2 separate regions of the Homo sapiens genome follow, and region 1 is linked to region 2. The links come from fine-mapping of genetic effects on gene expression. A gene starts in region 2. The other region holds a variant in brackets. All regions are shown on one strand. Distances are from middle to middle. Region 1 overlaps BTRC (beta-transducin repeat containing E3 ubiquitin protein ligase). Region 2 holds the start of BTRC (beta-transducin repeat containing E3 ubiquitin protein ligase).

Evidence for each region. PIP is the estimated chance that this variant, and not a neighbour inherited with it, causes the effect. A credible set is the group of variants that fine-mapping cannot tell apart.
Region 1: its variant is the best candidate, but not a certain one, in a credible set for the expression of BTRC in whole blood (TOPMed, PIP 0.55).

The regions. Positions count from the first base shown.
Region 1 is chr10:101,548,809-101,558,923 of GRCh38, reverse strand. BTRC (beta-transducin repeat containing E3 ubiquitin protein ligase) reads right to left here. Exons shown (of 15, transcript NM_033637.4): 14 at 8,033-8,225; 15 at 1,611-5,769. The coding sequence ends at 8,064. Among named protein-coding and RNA genes, the nearest start is that of POLL, 34 kb to the left of the region's middle. The variant G/C (reference allele first, on the strand shown) is at 5,135.
Region 2 is chr10:101,347,955-101,358,069 of GRCh38, reverse strand. BTRC (beta-transducin repeat containing E3 ubiquitin protein ligase) reads right to left here and starts at 3,905. Exons shown (of 15, transcript NM_033637.4): 1 at 3,842-3,905. The coding sequence starts at 3,889. RefSeq lists a silencer at 3,682-3,861 and an enhancer at 6,130-7,329.

The DNA.
Region 1 (10,115 bases), 200 kb before region 2:
TCATGCCCCATTCCTTAGTGGGGAGAGCACACTCCCCATTGGGCTGCCCAGCCTCTCCTTCCCTGGGCCCGGGTTCATGAGGTGCCTGGGGGTCTGGCCAGCCCCTGAGGACCGCATGCAGCCTGAGGTGGTGCTGGTGGTGGTGGGGGGTTCCAGCTTGGGTTTGGTAATCACCTTGCTCCCCTCAGAGTTGCTAATTGAAAGCAAGGGGTGTTGTAGGCGCAGCAGGAGAGGGTGGGGACTGAGAGCTTCCCTGAGAGGCTCTGCTTCCATGGGGGGACGAAAACAATTTCTCCAGGCTTCACCTCCGTCTCACCAGGCACCCACTTGGCCTCTCCTGCTGCTAACGAAGTGCCTTTAATTAGCAGCCTAATAAAGTGCTCTTAATTGGCAAGAGCCAATCAGGAAGAAGAGAGATCTCCTCCCCTTAGTCATTGCTGATGGTGGCACAGCTATAGGTTTAAAGCAGGGAGGGATTCCTGGCCCAGCCTGGGAGTAGGAAACCACGGCTATAGGGTTGAGACTTGCCAGGGCAGGCCCTAGACCACACCCTTCCTGGGGAAGAGATCTGACACAGTTTGAGGGTGAGGTCCACAAACTCTTAGGCTCAGCCTCTGCTCAGGAGCCCAGCTGGTGAGGAATATTAACTGAGCAGATACCAGTGGCCCCACAGTGGTTCCTCTGACACCTCCCTCCCTTCCTTCTCTCTCTTGGGTGCTGCCTGCCCTTAGTTGTTAGGGAGGATTCTTCAGTGTAGTTTTGGGCAATGTGGGTCCCTTTTCTTTCTCCTCAGTTTCCTCATCTGCCAAGGGTTGGGTGGACCTGATGCTCTGACATTCTTCCAGCTCTAGTAGGGAGGGTTCTGCACAGCGGCCCTGATATTGACCACAGTCTGAGATTGCTCATGGCCAGTGGTCAGTCCAGACAAGACAATGAGACTACAAGGCTGATGGAAGCCAGAGAGCCTTGGTCATGTGGAAGGGTTATTAATACAAAAAGCCCATAGATCTAAAAGAAGGATGGGTCAATTTTGACAAGGATCCTGTTTGTGACACTAGAGAGGGGAGGGGTACAGGGCCAACGGGGAGAGATAGTCCCATTCGGCCACTGCCTGCAACCTTGTACCTCTCCAGGTTTGGCTGAAGGAGGGAAGGGGGGTTTCACTCAAGAACTGCAATGTCATATCCCAGATAGTCAAGGGTGCCTTCATTCTTACAGCTTGTTGGAGCCCCTCTGGAAATTGCTCCCAGATGTGAGCTTGCTTGCCTATAAACTGATCAAATGGGATGTAGGGGAAACTCAAGTCTTTTCACAGCTGAGGGGCAGAGAAAAATGTAAATTCTGCATTCAGGTTGGGCTGTGGTTGGCTAAGGTGACCAATGCACAAATGAGACATGACTTTGGCTTCAATTTAACTCAACATGGAACAGTAGGCGTAAGCCAGGGACCCCACACTCATCCACAGCATCCAGCCCTGCTTTCTCTCAATCTTGTTTTCTCATGTCAGATTATCTGCAAAGGTATTCTATCTCTGCACTCCCTCAGTCTGTATACTGAAAAGTGTACTGCCCTTCTGGATGCTGGGGCAAGGAGACAAGACGCTTAGAAAATTCACTTTAATCTTATATTTGTAATTTACTTTTTTTCTGAACAGTTAAAAAAAACCCAAAACACACTCCATTATCATGATCCTAGGTTGTGAACATATTGGTACACTGACTACACATCACCATAACATAATCACAAAAGTCAAAGCAGTCAGTACTTAAGAGTCTAGAGAACAAAGAGGTGAACCAGCTGAAAGCTCTCGGGGAAGCTTACATGTGTTGTTAGGCCTGTCCCATCATTGGAGTGCACTGGCCATCCCTCAGATTTGTCTGGGCTGGCCTGAGTGGTCACCGCTTTGAGAAAGCTGTTAGTTTCCTTGGTGCCCAGAGGGCTAACACCCTAGTTGGCCTTTTCCTTCAGTGTCCAAGAAGGGGAAGGGTTAGGAGGGGAGGTAACACTTTAAAATACGACTTAACTGCACTGATCCTTAATAAAACACACAACCAATCAGGAGCTAAGAGCGCCAGCTGTGCTGGTTGGAAAGCACATATTTTAGATGTCATCTGCCTCCAGGACATTTTAGATCACAGGTACTCAACTTCCAACAGAAGGAGCTTCTAAAGATCAATGCATTAAGTTCCACCTGAAACCAGGCAGCCATCATCATGCTCTTTTGATTTCTCTCTTCAGCTCCAAGGATTCTGACACCACAGATGAGCTAAAGAAGCGAAACTGTTTTATTCCCCTAAGAAATGGCTCTCTTTCCGATACTATGTTGACACTGTGGTTAAAGGAGGTCTGGTCTGTTGGTGAACAACTGTGTGGAGGAAGACCAGGGAGGCTGCACCCTAAGCCTCCGGGCTGCACTAATCTGGGTTGGACTGCTCTGCTACAGACTGGAGGGTGTTGCCATCTAAGGCAAAAGGGAGATGCTGAGAAGGTCAACAGTACCAAGGTATCTAGTCCAATTATGGGAAAGAAAAAAATTGCCCTGATTATTTCCAGTATTCCCCACCCCTCCCACCTTTGTTTCCCCACACAATCAAGTGCTAAGTAAGGAGTAGACCAACTACAGCTGTTCAGACCAATGGTACCAGGAGCCGGCAAGGGAAGAGTGCATTTTTTTTTCTCTGTAGCTTTAGACTGTACAGAAGAAAAATAAAAAAGGATTGTTCTTACTCAAGCAAAAAAACCAGAATGATGTAGGGGTCTCACAGACTTTTCTAGTTCGGAAACAAGTTATGAGGGCCAGACTTTTATTACTTGTCAATAGAGATCCAAAAAGAGTCCCTGTCTCTGAAGTTAGGAGACACCAGAAAGAATTTTGCCAAGGGACATGTACAAATGGCCTTCCATCCATGATTCACATCCTTTCAAATTGCACACCAAGTTAAAGGATGTTCTCAGCAGTGAAATACACACACGTGCAGCAAGGCATGCTGGTCTTGTCCAAGTAGCTCCAGTGTGCACCAAAAGGTCACGTGTCTGTACCTCCTCATCTGCCTTTGAAGGGGTTTCAGCCTGTCTTTAAGAAAGGTTTCCTTTAGGCCCTACGTTGGAAAGTAAATTTTAGTGAGAAGAGACTAATCTACAATGGGGACACCTTCAGCTCTGTTTCTACCACTCCTTGGAATGTGCTGAGACTTTGTCTCTCTTTTCGTTTTAAAAAGGTCAAACTTTACATTTATTCTAGCCCAGTTGGGGATTAGTGATAATCAATTCCCACTGAAATCATGCAGAGATGGTAAGTGGGGTTTACCTTCTCTGGAAATGAACTTTTAACTTACCTGATTATTTCTTCTACAACAAACTGGTAAATGACCCCCAGAGCTGAGAAATGTGAACGATTCAAGTTTTTCAGACCACTTAACTTCATTCCCATTTCCATCAGCAGGAGAGAGGACAACTTGGAGAATATCCTCAACTGGGCTAATGGCTCCACATCTGCAGGGGTCGCCCCGATCTCCTTTGTGATGTACTGGACATGTCTCAAAACAGTCTTAGAAACAATATTCCTTCAACTGAACCTAGATTGGAGAGCAAAACCCTGGGCACCAATAAACATTCAACAGCTTCCACTTTGTAATAGCAGCATATGACAGAAAGGCTGGTAAAATTATGGCTATTGGGCAATATTTTGAGACAGCTCGAAACCCATGCCTTTTAAATGTCTGACCTGTGTGTTTTTCAGGGCTGACAGCCCTCTACCTTCATCTATAGCAAAATCCTTACCCAATCAAAAAGCCATTAATAGTCAACACAATAGATGACGAACCCTGATAGTGGCCAAGTAGAAAACATTTCTCTGTAGCATTTGGGTAGCTGGGAAGGGAATTACATTGAGAAAATATTTCTTAGGCTACGATGTATCATTATACTGGGAAATATTTTCTGAATATAACCTTGAACTAAAAGCTTAAAAATACTCATAAAGCAGGAAAGGTAGAATGCATATGCATAAAATGACTCTCAATATGTAGTAACAACATTCAGTGGGTACACCTTGGGAAGAGGATACCTTCTTGCCTGGGGAGACCAGCTGGGTGCACATTAATAGTATTCTGTGTGCTCCCAGGTTGGTGTGGCACAGGTACCCTTGCACCTGAAGCCCACTAGCTTGGCAGCTCACACAGCTGCCTTCCGAGTGACTGGGTTTGCCTGACCCTTGCTGAGGTCCAGCTGTTTATGCTGTTCACCAATCGCCACAGACGCTTTATTGGCTGGGGAGAGTGAAGAGCAAAATAAGGTCAGGAGGAGGAAGAAAAGGCAGTTTTTGCCCCATTAATAAACCCTGTGTGCCAAACTTCACCCTGATCCTCTCTCTTAAGCAGCTTTGCCCTTCTGCAAATACTGGGTGTGGGAGAAGCAGAAGGAAGGTTGTGCAGTGCAAGGTTGACACGGTGAGATCAATATTTGAGAGATGATATTTAACTGGCCAAAACAAAACAAAACAACAAAAAAAACAAAAACAGTGTTTTCTCCTGACCATCTCTCTTAAGCTACCTTGATCACGGTCTTGGCAAAGATACAGGCACCTGGGTATTCACAGGCCCTGATGAGGAAATCGGAGATGGAAACCATTACGCAGAATGCACCAAGCGATTGGCTCTGGCCATTTCAAATCTTTCTGTAGGCTGAGCCTTACCAGTGATTTAAGATGAAGTACAATGCTTTTTATTACACACCCAATTGTTAATGAGAGGAAATGCAATCAGCAACTCCTTTCCACACTCTACATGGAATCAAGGAGACTGCTGAGTCCAGAAAAGATGCAGCCATTGATGGAGCCCAGGAAACTTCTCCCCACCCCCTCTGCCTGCCCCCTACCACCAATCCTCCTCTTGGGTGTGGGGAAGAAAGAGAGAGAAGAGTTGCAAATATGATGAGAGTATCATGTCTGAGAATCCACTGTTGCCACAGGGTCACTTGCAGCAAAGGCCTGGGGCTGAAATCTTCACTGAACAGCATTTAACTCTTCCAAGTGTTGCATTTTCTGGCTGATCTGGCTCATGTGAGAGGAGGACACTCTCTTCGTACACTTTCTTCTCAGGTGAAGCAGACAGAGAAAAAAGGTTGAAGGGGCGTA[G/C]GGGAGTAGATGGGAAGAGGAACAGAAACAAAGAGAAGGCAGGCAGGAGGCCCAAATCTTCCAGTGTATACATTCTTGTGTTTTCTTTTTCTTGTCCCAGAGGCTATACAGAGGGAACTCTGTCTCCTCCTAAGCATATTGGGGCTGGGCTGCTCTGGCCAGGTGCTTGGCATTCCTGCAGTTAACAGGGAGACACTGGGCACTGGGCTTGAAGCTGCATCCCCCATACCCTAGAAGTGGGTCTCTCCCAGCAGGCTATACAGGGAAACTAGTTCTTCTGCTTAATGGCAAAGCAAGAGAGATTCTGGCAAAACACTAAATATATTTATAAGTCACCTTTGTCTGGAACCAATGGGAAAAAACTAGGTGCAGAGGTGAAAGGAGGAGAGGAGGGGAGGTTTAAAAGTTCCAATCATTCACAAAAGATAGAAGACATCTTCTGATAGCAGCACTGAAGCAGTCAGTTGTGCTGAGTAGACCGTCCTGGGCCGACTGCAGACCAACTGTGTCCCAACAGGAGTCTCAAAGCCCTGCTCCTCGGCTAGTCCAGGGAAACTGGGCAGTAGTTTGATTGTTACTGTTGTTGCTCATCCTGGTATTGGCAGATACGTTAAATACCGCAACTTTAATGGGTCCTGTGTGAAAACAGAGCAAATAGTCATTAGCCCCTTTTTTGATATTTCTTACTTGCTTGAAGACAAAAGAACATTCACTTAGCTGCCAATGGGGAAAAGGCTTAGGGGTCCTTCCTAATGCCTGCTCTCTGCCTATGCCATGCAGGAGCTTCTGTCAAAGGTGACCTGGCCTGATGGGGGAAGTTATACTAAAGGCAGGGCTTGCTGACATGCTCAGGGCTGTGGTGTTCAAGCAGAGTGACTCTGATGTCTTGAGGCTGAGAGTGCCCACGGTTGGCATAGCTTTCACTTGCCCTGTAGAATGGCAGGGCAGGGGTGGGGGATGGTCTGTGGGCCCTGCCTTTTGAGTGGCCATGAGCATGGCGGTGCCAGTAACAGAAGTGGGGGAATCAAGGAAAGCTGGCCTGGCTGTGTGGCTGCAGGGTACCAGCAGTGTAAAGGAGGGGACAGTGCAGTTGAGGATGTGAGCACTAGAAGTGCTCTTGCTATCTTCAAGGACAGCTGTGTGGATGGCAGCTGGAAATGTGGCCTGGAGATTAAGGCAGAGGCTTGGACTGGAGACAGAAATTTGAGTCTTCTACAATGAGATGAGATCTGAAGCCTTGGGAATAGAGAAGGCAGCCTAAGAAGGAACTCAGATAAGGAAGAAAAGCCAGAGACAGGCCGGGTGCGGTGGCTCACACCTGTAATCCCAGTAACTTTGGGAGGCCAAGGGAGGTGGATCACTTGAGCTCAGGAGTTCGAGACCAGCCTGGGCAACATGGTGAAACTCCATCTCTCCAAAAAAAAAAAAAAAATACAAACAATTAGCTGGTCATGGTGTTGTGTGCCCGCGGTACTCAGGAGGCTGAGGCAGGAGAATCACTTGAGCCCAGGAGGTGGAGGTTGCAATGAGCTGACATTGTGCCACTGCACTCCAGCTTGGGTGACAGGAGTGAAGCCCTGTTTCAAGAAATAAAATAAAATAAAATAAAATGAAATAAAATAAAATAAAATAAAAATAATAAGAAAAGCCAGAAACAGACTCTTGGGAGTGAGGGGGAAAGAAGCACAAATAATCAGAGAGTCAGGAAGAATATTAAAAATGGCAAAGTAACACGGAAGTCTAAGGAAGAGAAAATTTTGGGCAAAGGAGGGGGTAGGTATATGGAGATTGCAATATTAATACTCATGACCAGTTTTTCCTGAGGGCATATTATGTATTCGCCACTGTGCTAAGCACTAGGAATTTTCCATGCAGTATCTCCACACAGCCTTCACAGGGTTCCGTGAGGTGAGTGCTGCCCCTCACGTTACTCATCAAGAGATTCAGGGTCTGGGAAGTTACTTGTCTAAGGGCACACAGCCTGTGCGACCTGGCTGAGGAACGACGAACCGTGTCCTCTGTGAGAGAAAGAGAAGCTGAGGACAGCCCAGCTGGGCGTGAATCACTGTCCTCAGCGGAACACTGCAAAGAGAGATGCAGAAACGTGTAGCGAACATGTACTTCCGCCACGAGAACTGAGGCACACGTGGCAAATCCTGACAGCAACGCTCCTCAGCAGCTAGGGCAGCCTTCTCAAACTGGTAACAACCTAGTGTATTCGAACTGGTTAGAACAGCAGGTATGATCTGAATATACCACAATATGTATGGACCACCTGGGTATTTTAGGATCTTCCCCTGCCTGAGAGAGAGGTTGGAGACTTGAGTGGGAGGACATGTGGAGGTCAGAGGTCAAAAGACAGGTCCTCTTTTTGGAGGGTTGAGGAATAGGGATAGGGATATAAAAGCTACTTTTTATATTCCTTTTAAAATCTGCCCTTTTATTTATATGTCAGTGTGAACTTTCACCAAGAGATGTTTCCATTCACACATTAGACATCAGACTGTTTACTTGGCTTGAAAGGTCTCTATTGTAGGTATTGTTTGATCTGGGAACTTAAACATCACAGGCCTTTGGGTCATTACAGTACTTAGTTTTCAAACTGATTCAAATCTCATTTTATTTTCATAACAGTACTACTAGATAACTAGGGCAGGAATGACTAGGCTTACCACACAAGTAGGACCCTAGAATCATCTAGAACTGAGGCTGGCTACCTTGGTGAAAGGCACTGTCCACACTGTGGCAGCTTCAGCCCTGTCTCACATTGTCTGCTTCCTCGGCTTTACAGGAGTTGGTGACCCAAACGGCAGGAGAAAGTTCCATGAACTAGCAACACCTTACAGCTAATATCCCGTCTCCTACCCACAGTGTTATGTACATAATCGATTTCGATACCTGGGCAAGTATGAGGTCAGTGTATGGTTATTTATCTGGAGATGTAGGTGTATGTTCGAGAAGGGGAACGGGGGGGTTCAGCTTGGGCAGCTGGATCATTTAGGAAGTCCCAGATGAGGATTGTGTCATCATGTGAACTACTGACAATCTGGAATTCATCAAACTGTAGTCGAAAAACTCTTCCGGAATGCTCCTAAAGAAGTAGAAACAAAAAGGGTAGGAACTTGAACTACTCAAAATCAATAGGACACAAATTCAGCAACATGTCAAAAGGAGTCTACGGAAAGGCTATGGTTTGCTGTTATAAAGAGGCCAGGCGCAGTGGCTCACACCTGTAATCCCAGCACTTTGGGAGCCTGAGGCATGCGGATCACGAGGTCAGGAGATCGAGACCATCCTGGCTAACACAGTGAAACCCCATCTCTATAAAAATACAAAAAGTTAGCCGGGCTGGTGGCATGTGCCTATAGTCCCAGCTACTTGGGAGGCTGAGGCAGAAGAATTGCTTGAACCTGGGAGGTGGAGGTTGCAGTGAGCCGAGATCACTCCACTGCACTCCAGCCTGGGCAACAGAGTGAGACTCTGTCTAAAAAAAAAATAAAATAAAAATAAATAAATTAAAAAAATAGAGAAAATTTACTTTGGCTAAAGGCAGCATGGAAAAGTCAAATACTAGGCAGCTGTAAACAAAGCAATACTCTTTGGCCAAGACATGCTAAATAGCATGCTATTAATAGTTTCTCATGGCCAACCCTTTTTGGCGTAGGGTGGATGAGAGCATTCCTTACTACCTCCCTGGTTTTTATCTTCTAAGTTCCTTCTACAATCAGAGGTCAAGGATTGGTGAGCAATAAGAAGCAGTATGCTGATAAATGTTTATCAACCAAACTTTGCTACTTTGTAAAACCATCGGTAGATTTCCACGGCATTAAAAACTCCTATCATGGCCAATTATAAGCTAGTCATAGTCAACCAGCTGGCAAAATTCATGAATATCTAATAGTTGGCTCTCATAAGTGAGTATGAGCCTGTTCTAGCACACCACTGGCAGTTACCACCCTGATGAAGATGTAGAATGTTCCCAGCATACTGGAAAACAATCTCACACCCCTTACTAAACAATGTTACCTCCACTCCAATTTTATCATCATCATCTTTTTTTTTTTTTTTTTTTTTTTGAGACAGAGTCTCGCTCTTTCGCCCCTGCTGGAGTGCAGTGGTGCCATCTCAGCTCACCGCAAGCTCTGCCTCCCGGGTTCACGCCGTTCTCCTGCCTCAGCCTCCCGAGTAGCTGGGACTACAGGCGCCTGCCACCACACCTGGCTAATTTTTTGTATTTTTAGTAGAGACGGGGTTTCATCGTGTTAGCCAGGATGGTCTTGATCTCCTGACCTCGTGATCCACCCGCCTCGGCCTCCCAAAGTGCTGGGATTACAGGTGTCATCATCATCATTTTTTTTAGAGACAGAGTCTTGTTTTGTCACCTAGGCTAGAATGCGGTAGTGTGATCATAGCTCACTGTAACCTCAAACTCCTGGGCTCAAGTGATTTTCCTGCTTAAGCCTCCCAAGTAGTGAGGACTATAGACTCATGCCACCACACCTGGCTTTTTTTTTTTTTTTTTGTAGAGATTAGGTCTTTTTGTTGCCCAGGCTGGTCTTGAACTCAAGACCAAGCAGTCCTTCTGCCTTGGCCTCCCAAAGCTCTGAGATTATAGGTGTGGGCCACTGTGCCTGGCCCAATGCTGTTATTGTTATTAATTTGTTTAGTCTCTTACTGAATTTCATATAAATATAATCATATAGTATGTATTCTTTTGTGTCTGGCTTTTTTTTTTTTGAGACAGAGTCTCGCTCTGTCGCCCAGGGTGGAGTGCAGTGGCGCGATCTTGGCTCACTGCAACCTCCGCCTCCTGGGTTCAAGCGATTCTCCTGCCTCAGTCTCCTGAGTACCTGGGATTACAGGCACATGCCACCACACCCAGCTAATTTTTGTATTTTTAGTAGAGACGGGGTTTCACCATGTTGGCCAGGATGGTCTCGATCTCCTGACCTCGTGATCTGCCCACCTCGGCCTCCCAAAG
Region 2 (10,115 bases):
TCTTAAACGTGCTTGTGTGTGTGTGTTTGTGTGTTTTGGGGTCTATATTCCCTCAATCATTTTCATTTCTCTTCTTAGGTTCTCTTCAAGTTTCCATTTATACTTTTGTTAACCAAAAAAGTATTAAGAAAGGTCCTTGAGGACCTGCTAAAGCTGAATGAGAGACATTAGCACGTAAGTTAATGTAAACCGTTGCTTTCAATATCATTTATTTGTTTTTAAAAGTTAAACATTCTGCTTAAACTTTTTTCACAAGTAAAACAATAAGCTTTAAGTCTCGATCACGTGTGAATTATGGTCATCTCTGAATCAGCAGTCTTATTAACAGGATTTTATTGTAAAATTCTTTATCAAGGCACTTTAGTATAGCAATGAGCAAATTTGTGAGAGTATCCATTTCATTCTGGCATTTTAAACTAATTTTACATTTGTTTAAACCATGGAAATCATGACATCTGTATAAAAGTTGTCATTAGCGATTCACAATTGAGGGAAAGGTTAAGACCAGAACAAAGCCAAATAGTAATAAAAATGCCCGTTTGATTAAAAGGATAGTTCTTCCATGTGTACTGTGCACTAATTATTTGATGCTAGCTCAAATAGCTTCCTTTTTTTTTTTTTTTTTTTTTGAGACAGAGTCTCGCTCTGTCACCCAGGCTGGAGTGTAATGGCACGATCTCAGCTCACTGCAACCTCCACCTCCTGGGTTCAAGTGATTCTACTGCCTCAGCCTCCCGAGTAGCTGGGACTACAGGTGCGCGCCACCAGGCCTGGCTAATTTTTGTATTTTTAGTAGAGACAGGGTTTCACCATGTTGGCCAGGATGGTCTCAATCTCCTGACCTCGTGTTCCGCCCGCCTCAGCCTCCCAAAGTGCTGGGATTACAGGCATGAGCCACCACGCCTGGCCAATATCTTCCTTTTTTGTTTGTTTGTTTTTTTGAGACGGAGTCTTGCTCTGTCGCCCAGGCTGGAGTGCAGTGGCGCGATCTTGGCTCACTGCAAGCTCCACCTCCCGGGTTCACGCCATTCTCCTGCCTCAGCCTCCCGAGTAGCTGGGACTACAGGCGCACGCTGCCACACCCGCCTAATTTTTTGTATTTTTAGAGAGACGGAGTTTCACCATGTTAGCCAGGATGGTCTCGATCTCCTGACCTCGTGATCCGCCTGCCTCGGCCTCCCAAAGTCCTGGATTACAGGCATGAGCCACCGCACCCGGCCTATCTTCCTTTCTTAAAACTGACTCTGAATAAACAGACATGTTATAGCAGGGTAAATGGCACCAAAGGGAAGTTGTGACTTACTCAGATTCATAAGACTGTTACTGCACTGAAAGAGAATACCCAATCTCAAACTCTCCATTCTCTGTTTCTTTTATTAAGGTGTCATTCTGGTGACCCTCTTCTAGTTGACCTTTTCTCAAATGGCAGCCAAAACAGCAGGCAAGGTCAATAATGAAAGTAACTAAAATTAAAAGAAAAAATTGGCTTCTCCCTATGAAAACTGATTCAAGATTTAATAATGTGTGGTGCTCTAAAAGCTGCAACTACTATATGGTCATCTCCAAGTCCACTTTAACTCAACCAGGGAGGCCATTATCAAAACATAACTCACTGGTACAAAGCAGAGATTAAGTAGCTGAGAATGTTACTAGGCTGAAGTCTAACTGAGAGTAAAAAGGATGATCTCATAATGTCTCTTTATGATCTGTAAATCACATTATTCCATAAATCTGACACAAATGTCAGGATTAGGATTAAGAGTCAACCCTCTGCTGGGCGCTGTGGCTCACACCTGAAATCCCAGCACTTTGGGAGGCCAAGGTGGGCGGATCACGAGGTCAGGAGATGAGACCATCCTGGCCAACATAGTGAAACCCCGACTCTACTAAAAATAAAAAATTAGATGGGCGTGGTGGCCCACACCTGTAGTTCTAGCTACTCGGGAGGCTGAGGCAGGAGAATCGCTTGAACCCAGGAGGCGGAGGCTGCACCACTGCACTCCAGCCTGGGCGACAAAGCAAGACTCCATCTCAAAAGAAGAAAAAAAGGAGTCAACCCTCTAAGTAGGAAAACAAAAATAAGCAGTAACAGTTTTCTAACTTAAGTGTAGTAACTTTCACTTACTTCTAAAGTCCAGTAAAAGTTCAAGGTCTCTTCTTCATATTTAGAATTTTAATGTTGGGCAGAAATCCAAGAACCTTCTTCAGGCTCAATGAAATTTTGTTAATGATACCCCTGAATTTTAATTAGGTGTTTTCGAAAACACTAATGCAAGATAAAGTTTTAGTGAATTTGACTAGATTCCAAAAAAGTATTCTTATAAATGGGGCAGTTTAAAGTCTAAAATTCAATTTTGTTAGTATCCATGTTTATCTGGATTTGTTACGGTATTTTAGGCAAAGATACAAAATAGCTATTTTTTTAAGCAAAGGAGTAAGATTTGGAGTGACAAGTCACAATAACTTCTGAAAAAGCAAGACTGGACTGCAAATAATATCAATGTCCCTAAGGCCACCTGTTAAGCTTAAAATCTATGCATTCCATCATTCTTTAGTTGTAACCACAAAGTCTGGTTTTACACCTAGGAAATACAAAAAGCATCAGATTAAAAGCATCAAATATCAGACTATACGAGTTTGCCAAAGATAAGCACAGCAAAAAGAAAAGCGTGATACAAAGTTAAAGAAATATGTTCCAAGGGGTTTAAGCACACCCACAAAATCCAATCTTTGCTCACACTGTGCTTCAACCTAAAACTGACGGGTAACCACAAATCCTGACTTATCCCTGACTTACTTCCCTCTACCAACCTCCACCCTTTTTATCTCCTAAATTTCTCAACTGATCTCATCACTTCTTATGGGTCTTTGCAACTCTCATCTCCACGGCCTTTCCTTTCCCAGAAAATGATACAAAGCACCTGGCCTCCACATTTTACCGTCCCACAATTTACCTTTAAATTTTGTTTTGCTTACCCTATTAGATACTCATTTTGCCCCAATCTCCTGTACCCATGTTTCCCTGACAATCTGCTCTTACTTTTCATCACCTTGTCCTTATTACAGTATTTAGCTTCTCCTTTCAAAGTAGCGTTATGTACCCCTCCCTGACATTTGTAATTCTAGCTTACAGTCAACACCCTTTTCCCCTCCCAGGGACTGTCATTATAGCCCTAGGTCCTCATTCCCAGTCCTTATCTTCTTTAGTGAGGCCTCTTCCCTTCCAGAGTTTGTCAACAGTAGTTTGGCCAAGCTGGGATTCCACCCTCAAGGCAAAGGCTATCCTCCCTCCTCATTCTACAAAACTATAAGCCTCTCACCAGCCCTAGCGTTCCCTCCTCCACCCTTAAATCCATCTGCATCCAGCCCTGCCCGTTCCCCTCTACCCACCGTATCTGTCTTCACTCTATCCCGCGCTCCCTTCCCCAGTCGTGAATGCACCTCCTCTCCCGGGCCTTACCGGTAACCCTGACACCAGGAAGGCCCCGCCAGCGGCCTCACGGCGTTTCTCCAGAGAGCTTCCTCCGCTTTTCAGTAACAGTCCCCACGCCCCTTTCCCTCCAGGGCCCCGCGCGCCGCCTGGAGCCCCCTCCTCGATTAAGCTCCCGCTGTCACTTGGCCTCTCATCCACAAGATGGCGGAGCCGCTGCCCCCACCCCTGGGTCCGCTCCGCAACCCCCAGCCTCCTTTCTGGAGCTCCCATCCCATCCCTCCAGCCGCTCCGCCGCCAGCCTCGGCCCAGGGTCCCGCTGCCCGGTCCCGCAGTGGGCGGGCGGCCCAGGCCAGCGACGCCGCCAACGCCAGCGCCTCCACCGTTCCCCGGCCTCCACCGTCTCCTCACCATAAACTTGAGTGCCTTCTCTTGCAGCACCGCCTCGGCCGGGTCCATAATCGCCGAGGCCACTGGGTCCGCTCTCCGCCGGGGCCGCCCCTTTGGTGCCAGGCCGCAGCCAACGCAGCGCCCGGATCCCGCCTCCTCTTCCTTCCCCCCGCCCTCTCTTACCTCTCAGGCGCAGGCTGAGGGGCCAAGGAGAATCGGCTTCTCCGTGCGCAGGCGAAAGCCCACTGGCTCACGGGATTTGTAGTTCTGGAACTTCCCCCAGGAAAAAAACTGAGGCTACGCCGTGAACCGCAACTCCCACAGTTCACTGCGGCAGCGTTGCGGTTGCCCACAAGCCAGATTTAGATAAGTTGCCATTACGCAGAGGAAATCGGCTGATGGGAATTGTAGTTTACAGCCTCTAAGGATGAGAAACGGGAGGGGCACGGGTGTCTCCGTGGTTACCGAGCGACGCCAGTAGCGGCTTGCCTGGCATTTGATATCAAGATGGCGGCCAATGCCTCACTTGTAGCCCAAATACTAAGAAAAACTGTGGCAAGAATCACGGGTCCTAGGACCTGCCTAACTGTGGTTTTAGGAAGCTGAACGTCCCCAAATTTCATGTATCTGGCATCTGCAGGTTTGCGACCCAGAGTAGCTGGGCCAATGGGCACCTGGCAGCAGCTCACAGACAAATGCGGAATTTCAAGGTCCTCCTAAGCCATCGCCACCCACACTTCTCCCGAGGAATCTTTTCTCCCCCACAGCAAGTCAGGGCCGAATAGAACTCGGTTCAAGAAATTCTCAGTGTTTAGAGCTCAAAAAGCACATAACTTGCTATTGCTAACTGTGGGATGTAAGCCCTGCACTAAGGGTCAAACAGGTACTTAACAAAAGTCCTTCAACGGTGGAATATAATGGCCTCCAGCAAATAAAGCATATAAATATTTTCTTTGGCCTGAAAAGGTACAATATGGGTTTATTTTGGAAATTGGGTCTACCTTAGGAGGAGAAAACTCTAGGGTTTGGTTAAAAGTGATTTAGGTTGTTTTAAGCTGCTATGTTTGTGATAATTGGTTATACAGCCTAAAAAACTGACACACACCCAAATGCCCCTCAGCAGGTGGTTGTATGAACAAATTGTAGCATATTCCATATGTAGCACAGTGGAATATTACTTAGCAATGAAAAAGAACAGTATAACAACAACAACAACAACAAAAGTGATTTAGGGCCAGGCGCGGTGACTGACGCTTGTAATCCCAGCACTGTGGGAGGCTAAGGCGGGTGGATCACCTGAGGTCAGGAGTTCGAGACGAGCCTGGCCAACATGGAGAAACCCCCGTCTCTACTAAAAATACAAAAATTAGTCGGGCCTGGTGGCACGCGCCTGTAATTCAAGCTACTCGGCAGGCTGAGGCATGAGAATTGCTTGAACCCGGGAGGCGGAAGTTGCAGTGAGCCGAGATCACGCTACTGCACTCCAGGCTGGGCAACAGAACGAGACTCTGTCTAAAAAAAAAAAAAAAAAAAAGTGAGTTAGATTGTGACAGCCTTGTACAAAATATCTGAATTTATAAAATAAATGAACTAGGAAAATACTTTTTGACTTATAGGAAAAAATCTCCATTTTAAACTATCTTATTCACTCAGTCATCCAACAAATGGTAAGCATATAACCGTGTGCAGACATCATCTCAAGAAATAGGGATTCATCACTACTTGGGTGGCTAAAATATCAGACTTCACCACTATAATTCATCTATATAACCAAAAACCACTTGTACCCCAAAAACTATTGAAATAAAAATAAAAGTAATTAATTAAACAAAAAGAAAAAGGAATGGGGATTCATTAATGAACAAGACAGACCCAGTTATTTCCTCGTGGAGCTTACACTTTTACTCTGTTGATACTTTGTCCTAGCCCCTATATCCACAAAACTCAGCATGATACTTAATACATAATAGGCTTTCAGTTAATAAAAAGTTTTGTTCTTGAATTTTTAAAAAAATTCTACACAAGTGCAAAATGGAGAAGACTTCAAACGCATTCGTATGAAAACTAGCTGGAGGTTTTCAGAGGACTAAGGCAGTAACAGGATGGAGTTACAAAAAAAATAAATAAATAAATAAATGAAAAGATAAGGTGGGATGATGGTGCAGCCACTGGAAAAGAGTATTCCAGGCAAAGGTAACTGCATTTTTGGTGATTGATTCTGAGAACCAAAACAAGATCAGTGGGACTTTAGAGGAAGAGTGGCCCTAGATGAGACTGCAGAAGAGTATGGGGCTCTATAGGCAAGCCATTATTTAGCCGGCATAAACTGGTCAGATAAATCAGCTGACATGCTTTCTAAACTGGCATCAGGGCCTGTACCTTACCAGATATAAAATACCTTGACTTTCACTCCAGCTTATAGGCCAAGTTCAGTCATTTAGACTGTATCCTGAGAGCTGTGAGAAACTAGCTGAACAATTTAAAAAATGGTCAGATTTGCATTTTCAGAAAATCACTCAGAGTCCAGGGTGGAGGAGAGATTAAAATGGAGCACAGCTGGAAGCTTGGGGAAAGGATTATGAGGTTGCTGAAATATTCCTGGGAGAGATGATGGCAGCCTGAATGTGGTGGTGAGAACAGAAAGAAGTAGATGGATTCCAGAGATACTAAGAAGATAGAATCAGTGGAGTATGGTGATTGATTAGATGTGTCATGGATGATGTCAAAAGGATGTGTCAAAGATGACTTCTATGTATCTGGCTCAGGTAATGAATGAGGGATGCCATATATATGTATTTTTTTCTTTTTTTTGACAGAAAGCACAGTAGAAGTGGTAGGAGGATAATCAGTTCTCTTTTTGGACATATTGCTTCAAGGTGCCTGTGAGATTTCTAAGTGGATTCAGATGTTGAGGAGGCCATTGGAGATTTGAAACTGAAGTTGGAGGGAAAGACCTGGGCTACAAATAGGGATTCCAGCATGTAGGTGGTAAATGAAACTCCACTCCCGCTTCTTCCCCCGAAAAGAATGAAATCATCCAGGGAGCTGGGCATGGTGACTCACACTGGAAATCCCAGCACTTTGGGAGGCTGAGGCAGGTGGATTACCTGAGGTCAGGAGTTCGAGACCAGCCTAGCCAACATGGTGAAACCCCATCTCTATGAAAAATACAAAATTAGCTGGGTGGGGTGGTGCTCACCTGTAGTCCTAGTTACTCAGGAGGCTGATGCAGGAGAATCGCTTGAACCCAGAAGGTGGAGGTTGCAGTGAGCCGAGATCACACCACTGCACTCCAGCCTGGGTGGCAGAGCAAGACTCTGTCTCAAAAAAATAAATAAATAAAATAAAGAAAGAAAAGAAATCACCCAGGGAAAGCATAAACAGTGGAAAGAGCAACAGGACTAGGACAGGGTCCTAAAGAACTGTAAGATTTATAGGACGAGCACAGGAAGAGGAGCCTACAAAGTAGCCCAAGAAGTGACCAGAGAGGTAGCAGGAAAGTCTGGTGAGTGAGGATCATGAAGGGGTTAGGGGGTGCAGATGCCACACTGCAGCCTGTTGAAGAGGGAGGTGAGGATATGAAGACTGCTGAGTCTCTTCTTTACAAAACGTGGCTATCTAGGGAAGGAGAGAAAAGCTAGCACAGTGGTGGGATGTAGAAGTTGAGAGTCTAAGGAAAGCATTGTTTTGTCTGAAAGAAGGAAGATTTTAGTTCAAAGGAAATTGAAGAAGCATGGCAACTAAATGCAATGAATGATCCCTGATTGGACACAGGAACAACACACATACACTGACACTGATACACAGCAGAGAAAACAGCTATAAAAGGCATTAATAGGGCCAGGTGCAGTGGCTTACACACAGGTGTGGGAAGCCAAGGCAGGAGGATCTCTTGAGCCCAGAAGTTCAAGACCAGGTTGGCAACCTGGCAAGACCTTGTCTCTCTCTCTCTTTTTTGAGACTGAGTCGCGCTCTGTTGCCCAGGCTGGAGTACAGTGGTGCGATCTCGGCTCACTGCAAGCTCTGCCTCCCAGGTTCACGCCATTCTCCTGCCTCAGCCTCCCAAGTAGCTGGGACTACAGGCACCTGCCACCTCGCCTGGCTAATTTTTTGTATATTTAGTAGAGACGGGGTTTCTCTGTGTTAGCCAGGATGATCTCTATCTCCTGACCTCATGATCCACCCGCCTCAGCCTCCCAAAGTGCTGGGATTACAGGCGTGAGCCACCGCGCCCAGCCTAATTTCTGTATTTTTAGTAGAGACAGGGTTTCACCATGATGGCGAGGCTGGTCTTGAACTCCTGACCTCAAGTGATCCACTCGCCTCGGCTTCCCAAAATGCTGGGATTACAGGCGTGAGCCACCATGCCCCATGCCCAGCTCTTAAAAAAATAAAATTAAATAAATAAAGACATTAGTGAAACAGTCAGGGAAAAACTGAATATGGGCTGTGTATTAGATAACAGTATTTTATCAATGTTAAGTTTTCTGAGTGTGATAACTGTGAGAATAAGAAAATCAGAGAATGTCTTAGATGATACATGCTGAAGTATTTAGGGTGAAATGTTATGATACCTGCAGCTAACTCTCAATTGGTTTAGGAAATAAGGAAGGTGTCTATGTGGAGTGAGAGAGAAAGAGGGAAGGAGGAAGGGAGGGAGAAAGACAACTAAAGCGAACGTGGCAAAATGTTAAGAATTGATGGATCTGACTGGGTGTGGTGGCTCACATTTATAATCCCAGTACTTTGGGAGGCCAAGGTGGGCAGATCACTTGAGGTCAAGAGTTCCAGACCAGCCTAGCCAACAAGGTGAAATGGTGTCTCTATTAAAAATACAAAAAATTAGCCAGGCATGGTGGTGTGTGCCTCTAATCCCAGCTACATGGAAGGCTGAGGCAGGAGAACCCCTTGAACCCGGGAGATGGAGGTTGCAGTGAGCCGAGATTGCACCACTGCACTCCAGCCTGGGTGACAAAGAGAGACTCTGTCTCAAAAAAAAAAAAAGGAAAATTGATGGATCTAAGTGAAGGGTTGTAGGAATTCGTTGTACTCTTCTTGCAACTTTTCTGAGGGTTTGAAATTTTCCAAAATTTAAACTTGGGGAATAAAATGAAGTGAGATACTTGAGCATATTTAAATGCTGATAGAAAGGATCCATTAGAGAAAGGCTAAGGATGAAAGAAAGAGGATAATGATGGCAACAGTTCCTGAGAAGACAGGACAGAAAGGGATCTAGGAACAGATGGAGGGATTAGCCTCCTCTGAGAGACAGGAGGAGGAGCGTATGAGGACAAATAAAGTTAAGTTTAGAATTGGCAGAGAAAGGTTAAGGTAGTCCCTTCTTCTTCTTCTTTTTTGAGATGGAGTCTTGCTCTGTTGCCCAGGCTGGAGTGGAGTGCAGTGGCACGATCTCTGCTCACTGCAACCTCTGCCTCCCTGGTTGGATTATCCTGCCTCAGCCTCCTGCGTGGCTGGGATTACAGGAACACACCATTACGCATGGCTAATTTTTGTATTTTAGTAGAGACGGGATTTCACCATGTTGGTCAGGCTGTTCTCAAACTCCTGACCTTGTGATCCACCTGCCTCAGCCTCCCAAAGTGCTGGGATTACAGGCATGAGCCACTGCGCCCGGCCAAGGTAGTCCCTTCTAATAGGTGTCGCAATAGGCAAGTAACAATTTCTGCCATACAAAGAAATAAAATTTTTGTATTTTCTGTTCTTCTGGATTATGTTTTTCCCTTTTCTTTTATTAGCACAATTAGTGGAAAAGTCGCTTTTCTTTTTAAATTAATATTGTTTTAAATTGAGAGATCGTAATTGTATACATTGATGGAGTACCATGTGATGCTTTGATATATGTATAGGATGTGGAATGGTTAAATCAACCTAATTAACATATCCATCACCTCACTTACTTGTCCTTTTTTGTGATGAGACATGTGAAATTTACTCTTAGTTATTTTGAAATATACGATACATTACTATTGGCTATAGTTATCCTACTATGTAACCCAGCCAGAATTTCCTTCTTTTTAAAGGCTGAATAGTATTTTATTGTGTATATATACCACATTTGGCTGGCCTGTTTGTAATCCCAGCACTTTGGGAGGCCAAGGCAGGTGGATCACAAGGTCAGGAGATCGAGACCATCCTGGCTAACATGGTGAAACCCCGTCTCTACTCAAAAAAATTGGCCGGGCGCGGTGGCTCACGCCTGTAATCCCAGCACTTTGGGAGGCTGAGGCGGGCGGATCACGAGGTCAGGAGATCGAGACCATCCTGGCTAACACGG